Linked DNA regions of Homo sapiens. The protein of the gene in region 2 interacts with the protein of the main gene of each other region in a pairwise test. Each region holds a gene or a part of one and is shown on either strand. Other genes may lie near its edges. The genes, in order: GOLT1A, HSD17B11 and LNPEP.

Evidence for each region.
Region 1: the proteins of HSD17B11 (region 2) and GOLT1A interact in binary tests that used the Homo sapiens proteins (3 or more experiments, as listed by UniProt).
Region 3: the proteins of HSD17B11 (region 2) and LNPEP interact in binary tests that used the Homo sapiens proteins (3 or more experiments, as listed by UniProt).

Annotation. Positions count from the first base shown.
Region 1 is NC_000001.11:204,200,823-204,204,140, reverse strand, and holds part of GOLT1A (vesicle transport protein GOT1A), read left to right. Parts: intron 1-1,153; coding exon 1,154-1,245; intron 1,246-2,329; coding exon 2,330-2,508; intron 2,509-3,318. UniProt on the Homo sapiens protein: May be involved in fusion of ER-derived transport vesicles with the Golgi complex.
Region 2 is NC_000004.12:87,381,087-87,384,741, reverse strand, and holds part of HSD17B11 (estradiol 17-beta-dehydrogenase 11 precursor), read left to right. Parts: intron 1-2,379; coding exon 2,380-2,487; intron 2,488-3,655. UniProt on the Homo sapiens protein: Can convert androstan-3-alpha,17-beta-diol (3-alpha-diol) to androsterone in vitro, suggesting that it may participate in androgen metabolism during steroidogenesis.
Region 3 is NC_000005.10:97,029,963-97,033,617, forward strand, and holds part of LNPEP (leucyl-cystinyl aminopeptidase), read left to right. Parts: 3' UTR 1-3,655. UniProt on the Homo sapiens protein: Release of an N-terminal amino acid, cleaves before cysteine, leucine as well as other amino acids. Degrades peptide hormones such as oxytocin, vasopressin and angiotensin III, and plays a role in maintaining homeostasis during pregnancy.

The DNA.
Region 1 (3,318 bases), on a different chromosome or scaffold from region 2:
AAAACAAAGCAACAGAATGAATTTTTATTTATTGACTATCATAGTGGCAAAGATAAGTAAAATGAACAATTCTGAGTGCTGGAGAGGGTTAAGGAAAAAAGGAACTATATATCCGGTTATTGTACAAATCGTCTTGAGGGGAGCGATCTGAAATATGTTTATCAAAATGTCAAAAATGTAGCCCTTGACCAAACGAGGGGGCCTTCATGTCCTGCACTTCTAGGCTACGCTTGCTGGCTCTGAGTGAACTCCTGCAGCTTCAAAGAATGCCCTGAGACACTTACAAACCTTGGGAATGGGGGCTTACTGTCAAACCTTGGGAATGGGGGCTCACTGTCAAACCTTGGGAATGGGGGCTCATTGTCAGTGTGGGTCCAACCTCGGCAGAACTGCCCAAAGCCACTGGGCTGAAATGAGAGTTGGCCGAAGAGTGTGTGGGGGGCCCGCAAGGTGCCTGCTGCAGGAGGGAGGGAGGACAATGGGAGCAGGTGCAGGCTTGGGTCTTGGATATAGGTCCCAGCTGAGAAGAGGAATGCATTCCTAACTGATGACTTCTGTTTTCCCAATCCAGTGGGAAATGTCACCACCTGAGAGTGGAGACAGGGCAATTCTGAGGAGGAAGGAGGCAGTGTGGAGAGTTGCTCAGGCGGGCCAGCCTCTTGAGTAAGGACCAGGAGAGCTGGGTGGTTCTGAGGCTCTTTGGAGCTGGTGGTCCTGAGTTTTCAGTGGCTCCCTTCTGCGCAGTGTGGGCTGGGCTCCAGTGGTTCTCAGTTGCACAAGGCAGGAGCAGAGGCAGCAGATGCTATGTTCAGCCTTGATACTGATGTGGATAATGTGGCTTTTGAGGACAAGAGGAGGCTGAGAGTATAAAGTGGTCAGGGCAGCACCAGCTTCCACACAGGGCTGCAGTGAGGACAGCATGCCACTGTGTACAGAAGTGACAGCACAGTTCCCAGGTGCCAGACAAAGCTTCATGCCATCCTACCTTCCCCTTCCCATCCCACCATCCCCTGAGAGCATGAAAGCTGAGATTCCTGGATGGAAGTGGAGTCACCCCCATAGAGGGCACCTGTCCTGTGGCAATGGGGGAAGTTTCAGGGTCCCCACCTGCTCCCCAAAGCCCTTTCCTCCACCACCTCCTTGCCCATTGCAGAGATTGGTGTGGGGATCACCGGTTTCGGCATCTTCTTCATCCTCTTTGGAACACTCCTGTACTTTGATTCCGTGCTCCTGGCCTTTGGAAACGTGAGTCTCCCAGCCCTGTGTCCCCACTCCCCTGCCCCAACCTTTCTGAAGTCTCTATTGCCAGGATAGTCCTGGCAATAAAGACTTACAGTTTATTTAAGTCTTTAAATAAATCCCTTAAGTAAATCCCAAGTTTATTCAGACCATGCCTATCCAGGGGTCAGACATCATCAAGCCTGGGCAGAGGAGGGCACAGGAAATGGACGCAGAGCCCGCTGGCACCAAGAATCTGAGGACCTGGATTCTCACACCGAGCTCTGGGCGAGACCCTGGGGGTTCTAAGAGGACTCAGACACTGTCCCTGCCATCTGAATCCCACTCTAGGGCTAGAGATATAACATGACATACATGGCTGGGAGGAAGGCAGGGGCCATGGTAAACACATTTAGTATGAAACAAGGGGCTTAGTGGAAAGAGGGCACACTGAATTGGAGAATGGTGGAGAGGAATTTGGAAAGGAAATGGGTGTGGAGGTGAATAAAGCACTTCCAGGGGGATTGGAACAGCAGGAGAAAAGGTGTGGGGAAGGAGCAGGGAAGCATGGGATATGCTGGAAGAAAACCAGAGAGTTCAATTTGATGAGAGCCTGGGCACTCTTAAGGGATTCATTAGGAGCCAAGCTGAAGACGGTGATAGGGCATCCAGGGGAGGGACTGGAGGGTTATTCTGTAGGCAGTGGAGCCTCTGAAGGTTCTGTGTGACTTTCAGTATGGCTGCCTAACCTACTTAGGCCTCAATCTTCACTTCTTTGGAATAAAAATCCCTCCCGATTCCATCTTCCCCAGATGGTATGGTGAGAAACCAAGTCCCATATGAAAAATGCTTGGGCTCCAGGGAATTGGGTAGGCAACTAGAAACCGTCAAAGGTTTCTCATCCATCCCCCTGCCTCTGCGCAGTCCTGTTCCCAGCCAGCAAGACTTATCAAGGCTCTGGGATTCTGCCACACTGCTGGATGGCCCTCGCTCAGATGGTCTTGAACAGTTAGCACATCCTGTCCCAGCCCACCGCCTGGCTCCAGGCCTAAGTCCCTCACTCCTCAGGGGGCTGGTGGGTTTGCTTCATGCTCCCCTCCCTCCCCTACAGCTGCTGTTCCTGACGGGCCTGTCCCTCATCATTGGCCTGAGGAAGACCTTTTGGTTCTTCTTCCAACGGCACAAACTCAAGGGAACCAGCTTCCTCCTGGGGGGTGTGGTTATCGTGCTCCTACGCTGGCCCCTCCTCGGCATGTTCCTGGAAACCTACGGATTCTTCAGCCTCTTTAAGTGAGTGCAAATCCCTATAACCCTGGACAGACCCACCAAAGTGTCTGAGTGGCTGAGATCACCCCAGCAGGGAGTGCAGAAGCTGGGACTTTATCCTGCAAGAGATGAGAACCATGGACACCTTGGAAAGGCCCCCTAAAGTAGGCTGAAGGGTACTTTGGAGGGATTAGCCCATCCATCAACAAATACTGATAGAGTGCCGACTGTGTTCCCAGCACTGTGCCCCCAGCACTGTGCCTGTGAGCAGGGAAGAGACACGAGGCCTGCCCTCAAATCTCAGTGATCCAGCCGGAGAGGAAGGGCAGTGAGCTAACATGTTCCAGGCACACTCATGATCATCATCTTATTTTATCACAACAACCCACTATAGGATTATCCTCTACTTCATAGATAAGGAAACCAACACTCAGAGAAGTTGCCCCCGGCCCAAAGTCTCAAACTAGTATGTGAAAAAGGTCGCCCTTAACCCAGGGAGCTCTGGCTCCTGACCCCTGTGTCATCCCCTGGCCAGGCCTGTGTCAGCCCTGGGCCTGGGAAAAGGCAGGGTGGAACTCAGCCATGATGTGTGGCCACTGTCAGGCCTGTAGGCACTTAGAGGGGAGCCCAGGGTAGTGTCATAGAGGAAGCAGGACTTGAGAGAAGCCTTGAGGGATGGGTAGGGTCTAAGAGAAGACTGGAGGGCACTGAAGGAAAAGGAAGGAAGGAGTCTCAGAGAAAGTGGGGGTGGGAAGGAAGACTTCATATGTCTACACGGTGGTGTGGAGAGAATAGGGGTGGGATTGGGACAATGGACCCTGGAAGAATGATGGC
Region 2 (3,655 bases):
GGGTTCGAGAGCAGAGAACCGGTCTGACCACAGATTTACCAGGGCAAAGTTTTTCCCCACCCTAATAAGCCTGATAGTACTGCAGGAGACCAGGGCGTATCTCAGTCCTTACCTCAACCACATAGGACGGACATTCCCAGAGCAGCCATTTATAGACCTCCCCGTAGGAATGCATTCCTTTCCCAAGGTATTAATGTTAATATTCCTTGCTAGGAAAAGAATTTAGCAATATCTCTCCTACTTGCACATCCGTTTATAGGCTGTCTGCAAGAAGAAAAATATGGCTCTTTTTTGCCCGACCCCACAGGCAGTCAGACCTTATGGTTGTCTTCCCTTGTTCCCTAAAAATCACTGTTATTCTGTTCTTTTTCAAGGTGCACTGATTTCATATTGTTCAAACACACATGTTTTACAATCAATTTGTACAGTTAACACAATTATCACAGTGGTCCTGAGGTGACGTACATCCTCAGCTTATGAAGATAACAGGATTAAGAGATTACAGGCATAAGAAATTATAAAAGTATTATTTGGGCACTGATAAATGTCCATATTAAAATGAAATCTTCACAATTTATGTTCTTTGCCGCGGCTCCAGCCGGTCCCTCCATTCGGGGTCCCTGACTTCCCACAGGAGAAAAAGAACTTGTTTCCCTTTATTATCATAACAGTTTCACTATGCAAGCTACTAATTCTCCCCACAGCTGTCCAGATTTGGCCTTTCCAACATTAGTTGCCATTTACAAATGTGTACACTGATTCACCATCCTCTCTGTGGATAAATGTATGAGTCCTCCTAGGGTCTGCCCATTAGTGCATTAGTTGACAATTATTAGGTTGATGCAAAAGTAATTGCAGTTTTTGTCATTAAACTAATGGCAAAAACAGCAATTACTTTTCCAACAACCTAATACTTGGCCTGCAGAATGCACAATACTAGATCTTCATCCAAAATATCTTTTGAGACATTCTCTTAAAAGTTAAAAAAAAAAAAAGGCAAAAATTGGCCAAAAGCAAACAAGCAAAGATAACAACAACAACAAAAAACCCCAATGGTATGATCCTAAACTTAAGTTGACTCAAAATTGGCGCCCCAAATTGGACTCATAACCCCTTTTCCTCAAATCTGCTGTCATCTCTGTCTGACATGTGGCAGCGTGATCTTGCCAGCTACCAAAACTAGAAAGCAAAGATGTCAGATGTGGCTCCTTCCCATCCTTCCTCATCTACTCACCAAGTCTTACTGATTTTACCTTCTAAACATATATTTTAAAGGATATTCTTTCCTCTACATTTTTTCTACTAATGCCACATTTCAAGTTTGTGTCATCTATTACCTGAATCACTGTAACTGCCTCTCAGTTTTTTTCTTCCTCCAGTGTTGACCCCTAAAATCCACCCTCCATACATCAGCCAAAATAATCAATACGACACATAAACCTGACACTATAATTTAATCAGTGGCTCCTCATTCATTTTTTGATAAATCTTAATATGACATGTGGGACCTTAATCTGAACTTCTTCTGGCCTTGACCTTTATGATCCATCCAACAACACTAATCCTACTAGTGGTTTCCACAAGACCAATCTCCTATCTGTCATTGCCCACACCCTGCCTGATGTGTCCTTTCACCCTGGGGAAAGCAAGTGAAAGGGCATGGCAAACCACTGCTGGAATTGTATTGTGTGCCCCTCTGTGTTCCCGTAACTCCCTGTATAGAACTCTGCTGTGATACTCATCACAATGTATTAGGTTGAAACTGCCAATATTCAATCTTTTATTATCAAAACAATAACAGTATTACGTGGTCCTACTTAACTATGATACTTATGTTTCTTTCTACTACACAGAGAACTTCTTGGGGTCGGGACTCTACCTCATTCATATTTGTGTCAAGGTTTTTCTAAGCTCAGTGAATATGACCTTCACATTAAAATGCTGAAAGAACAAATGGTTTAATGAACTGTGGTTAACTCATTATTTCTTTTGCAGACAGTAAACTGACATCCATGAATAGTTTTTAATGACATGGAAAAAAGTTTAATGTTACATTTTTTAAAGCCTGATATGGAATACACAGAGATACCAACATTCACAAAGTATTCAAAGTTCATAAATATAAAAACTAGTATTTTAAGATTTTTATCTTCTTTTAAGAAGCTTGCTTTAAATTCAGCTCCAAATAAAAGAAGCTAGTCAAAATACTAAAAGCAAAATGTGCCTATATACCTGCCAAAAATGTGTTGTTAACAATCTTGCCCAATTCAAATGGAAAGAATCTCACTACTTTTTAAAAATTATTTTTAATTATTTTCAGCTGTCGATATAATATGTTCATATCAATTATTACCTTGCCCTCTTTTTTGCTTTTTCTAGCATGGACTGGAGGAAACAGCTGCCAAATGCAAGGGACTGGGTGCCAAGGTTCATACCTTTGTGGTAGACTGCAGCAACCGAGAAGATATTTACAGCTCTGCAAAGAAGGTGAAATGTTGTGTTTAGTTAGAATCATATCATGTTAGAGCTAGGAGGTGTTTTGGAGATGACCCAGTCTGTACATGATATAGATGAAGTACCTGAGAAATGTTGTTATTTGACCAAGGTTATAGAACTAGCTCATAGCAAACCCAAAACTAGAACCGAGAACTGAACCTCTCAAATATTAGTATGTTCTGGAATTTTCCAGGGAGTTGTTAAAAATGTATATATATACTCTTGGGCTCCACTTCCAGAGATTTTCTTTCAGTAGGTTGAAGGCAGGGCCTCAAATACATCCACCCTGCCTCCCATGCGCCTTCATCTCACCCATGATGCTCATATAGGTAACTATGCCTGGATGACACTTGCAGAATTGCTGACAGGGTCTTCTGAAGCCCATTCATAGAATTGGGTTAGAAAGTTACAATAAAGCTATTCTTTATCAGGTTTTTATTGTAGATAGATCTATTTCTTTTCTTTTCTCTTTTTTTTTTTTTTTTGAGATGGGGGGTCTCACTCTGTTACCCAGGTTGGAGTGCAGTGGCATGATCTCGATTCATTGCAACCTCCACCTCCCAGAATCAAGCAATCCTCCCACCTCAGCCTCCCAAGTAGCTGGGACCACAGGTGTGTGCCACCACGCCAGCTAATTTTTTGTATTTTTGGTAGAAAACGGGGTCTCACCATGTTGCCCAGGCTGATCTCGAACTCCTGAGCTCAGGGGATCCACCCACCTCAGCCTCCCAAAGTCCTGGGATTATAGGCATGAGCCACGCTCCCAGCAGATCTATTTCTATAAAGCATTATTTGCCTCTTCTAGATACAATTGAGATGTGCTGTATATAATGGGGTTTCACTCTGAACGCATTCTCGCTTGTACCTGTTAACTAAATACCTTAATGGCAGCAAGGTCATCAGAATTACCTGGGCAGATTCCTTAAAATACACATTCCTGGACCTTACCCCTGGATATTCTAATTCAGTGCAGTATAAAAAGTGTGATTCAGCAAGACTTGAGAACCTCTTTGTTTATGGAATTTTTGGTTTGAGTTCTTTTTTTTTTTTTTTTTTTTTGAAATGGAGTCTCACTCTGTCGCCCAGGCTGGAGTGCAGTGGCGTGATCTCAGCTCACTGCAAGCTCCACCTCCCGGGTTCACAAGCGATTCTCCTGCCT
Region 3 (3,655 bases), on a different chromosome or scaffold from region 2:
TTGAAAACAGTTTCTATGTACATAAAAAGGGTATTTACCCATTTGTGAGCACTTAAAACACTCCACAGAGTCAGACAGTGGGAAAGGTCACCCTTTTTTTATTCGGCAGGTATCAAGTTAGAATGTATGGAATTGTGAATAAAATTATATTTTATTTTATGAAAATATTTTTATATAATAAAATTTAAAAGGCTGGTAAGCTAAAAAAATAGTCTTCTTTAATCCTAGTGTGTTTTCCCCAATTTAGTCTTTTCTAAAATTTATCTGTTTTAGAGTAGAAAATATTATATCCTGAGAATCACAGAATCATCTAAATATGTCTTATTCAACTGAAGTGATTGTAAGTCTTTATTCTTGTGCTTTGGTTAAATGAATGATAATTTAGTTGATAGTGAAAGTTAATGTGTTTTTATATTTTTAGAGTGAGGGAAAAATACTAAACTTTTGAGAGTTTTGTTGTCGTTGCTGGTTTTTTACCATGTGGTACTAAATTCCACTTTGATACAAAATTTAAATTTTGTAACTTCTCAAAATCACTTAAGATTCTTCAGTTTTACCTGTGCTTCTTGACATCGCTCCTATAATGTATGTTAGTTAACTCTGCATATGGCAAATCTTGTCTTGAATTATATCATTTCTCTCCCTCTCTCTCTCTCTCTGTGTGTGTGTGTGTGTGTGTGTGTGTGTGTGTGTGTGTGTGTGTGTGTAGTGTGGGGGGTATTGTTATGAGTAAAACTTTATCAAAACTTGGCCTGAAAAAGAGATAACTCATGATCCATTGCTATCTTTATTACTCAAAGGCTGTTCATTCCCATAATACCAGATCCATAATAGTTGTAGTTTTTTTGATGTTGTTGCCCTTACCTTAATTATTTGTAGTTTTAGTAGGCCTTGCCTCAGTTTTTCCCACAGAATTCCATAATTTTAATGTTGAACTAACCCATCTATATAGGACTTCTAAAAACTACGTCAGGAATGTAAGGTTAAATGAGAGGTAGAACTTGTAGTGTAATAGGTATAATGGTAGCTTTCAAAGTTTTATCTTCTCAAAACATTGTCTTAGCCAGTGTATTTCTGAGAACTCAGACTGAAGCACAGAAGTCACAGTATGCTTCTTTTATTTAAGCACACAGATTCATGACACAAGTACTTGTTGAACAAGTGTTCTCATTGCAGAGAGATCTACTTGAATATAAAAGGGTCATCATACTAGATTATTAAAAAAGAATTGGAAATCTTGAGTTGTGGAAGAAATGTTTATGCTTTGGAGATCTAAAAAAGTTATGAATGTAGGAATTAGATAAGTCCAGTTTGTTCTGTTAATATAAAATGGTTAGATATATTAAACTGCAAGTAGTATCAGCTTCACCATAAGCTTGGGCCTTCCTCCATCTTGTTTTATTTAAGTCTCTTTAAATGAAATTTTGTTGTCATTGTTTCAGCATTCATGAACTTTCTTACTATCACAGGTTCTACTTTAATTTTCCTTGCCATATGTGTTTCCATTTTGTGGGACATTAGCCACCACAGGAACACAAGAGTTGTCAGAAGACTCCTGGGTGTACAGAGCAAATCAAGCTGCATCAGTATTATAGGATACCAAACAGAATCCTTTCTATTAGGAAATAAGAAATCAGTTAAGTGTTGGCTGGGCGCGGTGGCTTATGCCTGTAATCCCAGCATTTTGGGATGCCAAGGTGGGCAGACCATTTGAGGCCAGGAGTTCTAAACCAGTTTGGCCGACATGGCAAAACCCCATCTCTACTAAAAATATAAAAATTAGCTGGGCATGGTGGTGCACACCTGTAATCCCAGCTACCTGGGAGGCACGAGAATCACTTGAACCCAGGAGGCGGAGGTTGCAGTGAGCCAAGGTTGTGCCACTGCACTCCAGCCTGGGTGACAAAGCGAGACTGTCTCAAAAAACAAAAAACAAAAAAAAAAGAGTTAAGTGTTGATTTTGTTGGATTACTGACAGTTTGTTGAGATGGATTTTAAAAAGAGTCTATTTAAACCAAAGTACCTGGAACCATAATCTGCCATCAGATTGCTAAACATTCACATAATCCCCATGTTTCATGGGGCTTCAGGGAAGGCAAATACATCTGAGATGAGCCACCTCCAAGGACAGCATTTCCTGGGCTGCAAAACTAGATGTGGATTTTGTTACTTAGGCCTCTCTAAAAACTGAGGCCATGGATATGACATAGCTTTTCTTCTCACCTATGCCTTTGTTACTTTTGTATTTATTGGAATTAAATCTCTTTTTAAAGAGCTTCCTTCCCCCTTCATCCCATTTGTATTTTTAAAAACTAAGTTATATATATATTTGCTTGTTTTTGCATTCTTTTATTTTGTGCTCCATTCCCTGCTTTGCCAGTTAAGTACTACCTGAAAAGTAGCGGTTCAAAAGTATGGTAAATCTCCTCCCTTAACCTTATTGCCTGTGTGGGTGACAGCTAATGGAAAAGTTGATCGATTTTTTTCAGTGGTTTTTTTGGGAGTATATACTTTAAAAATGTACATACATGTTTTTGATAGTTTTTATATTATTTCATTTTGTATATTTTTTTCCTGATGAAGAGTGATATATCATCCTATGAAAATTTCATCTACCCTTCCCATTTTACCTGTATGGGCAGTAGCTACAGACTAGTTATTTGGTTTCCTTCTTTGGAAGAAGGTGGTGATGTTGAGAGGAGAGCAAGCTATATTCTTTTAAAAGTGTGTACAGATGTTTTTGCTATTTTGTGTTATTTCATTTTGTATTTCATTCATCCATTTTGTGGACGTGTAGATAAAACGCGGTGGTCCAAAAGCATGACAGATGTCCCCTTTGCGTTTCTCCTTATTGTTCGCATGGACAATAACTGACAGAGTAGTCCTAGTTGCTGTTGTTTTGATCTAGTCTTGGGGCTGGGGTTGTATATTATTCTTTCAAGTGTGTATAAATATTGTGCCACCTTTTTATACTTCATTTTATACTTGTTTCCTTGTATGGATGCATATATACTTAATGAAAATTGAGGTTCAGAGTATGACAAATCTCTTTTCCCTTTTCCTTACTGCCTATTTAGGCAATAGCTAATAGAGTAGTTTGTTTTGTTTTGGGGTGTGGGGGAGAGTGGAGTATGTACTTAATGTATATAAATAAACTTGCTACTACATTGTATTACTAATTTGGTTCACACTGTGTCCTTCTCATGGATGTGAAAGTACCAATGAAATGTGGAGATCTCGATGTATAACAGTCTCCCATTCTCCTCATCCCTTATTGACTGCTGGGCAGTAGCTAACAGAGTAGTTGTCAAGTGGCGTATTTGAGGTGAGGGGGAGGGACGGGGAAGGTAGGAAAATGCACTTAATGTATATACATGTTTTTACTACTACATTGTATTAATTCATCGGGTGCCCAGACTGAAAGGTACCTAATGAACCATGGAGTTCCGGATGTATAACAGTCTCCTCTTTTCCCTTTCCCTTATTGCCCATGTGGGCAATACTTAAGAGTAGTTTGGGTTTATTGAAGATTTTTTGCTAGGAGAGAGAAAATTTTTTGCTAGGAGAGGTTTCAAGGTAAGAGTATATACTTTAAACATGTATATAAATGTTTTTGCTACTTTTCTGTCACTACCTTTCTTACCTTGTCCTTTAC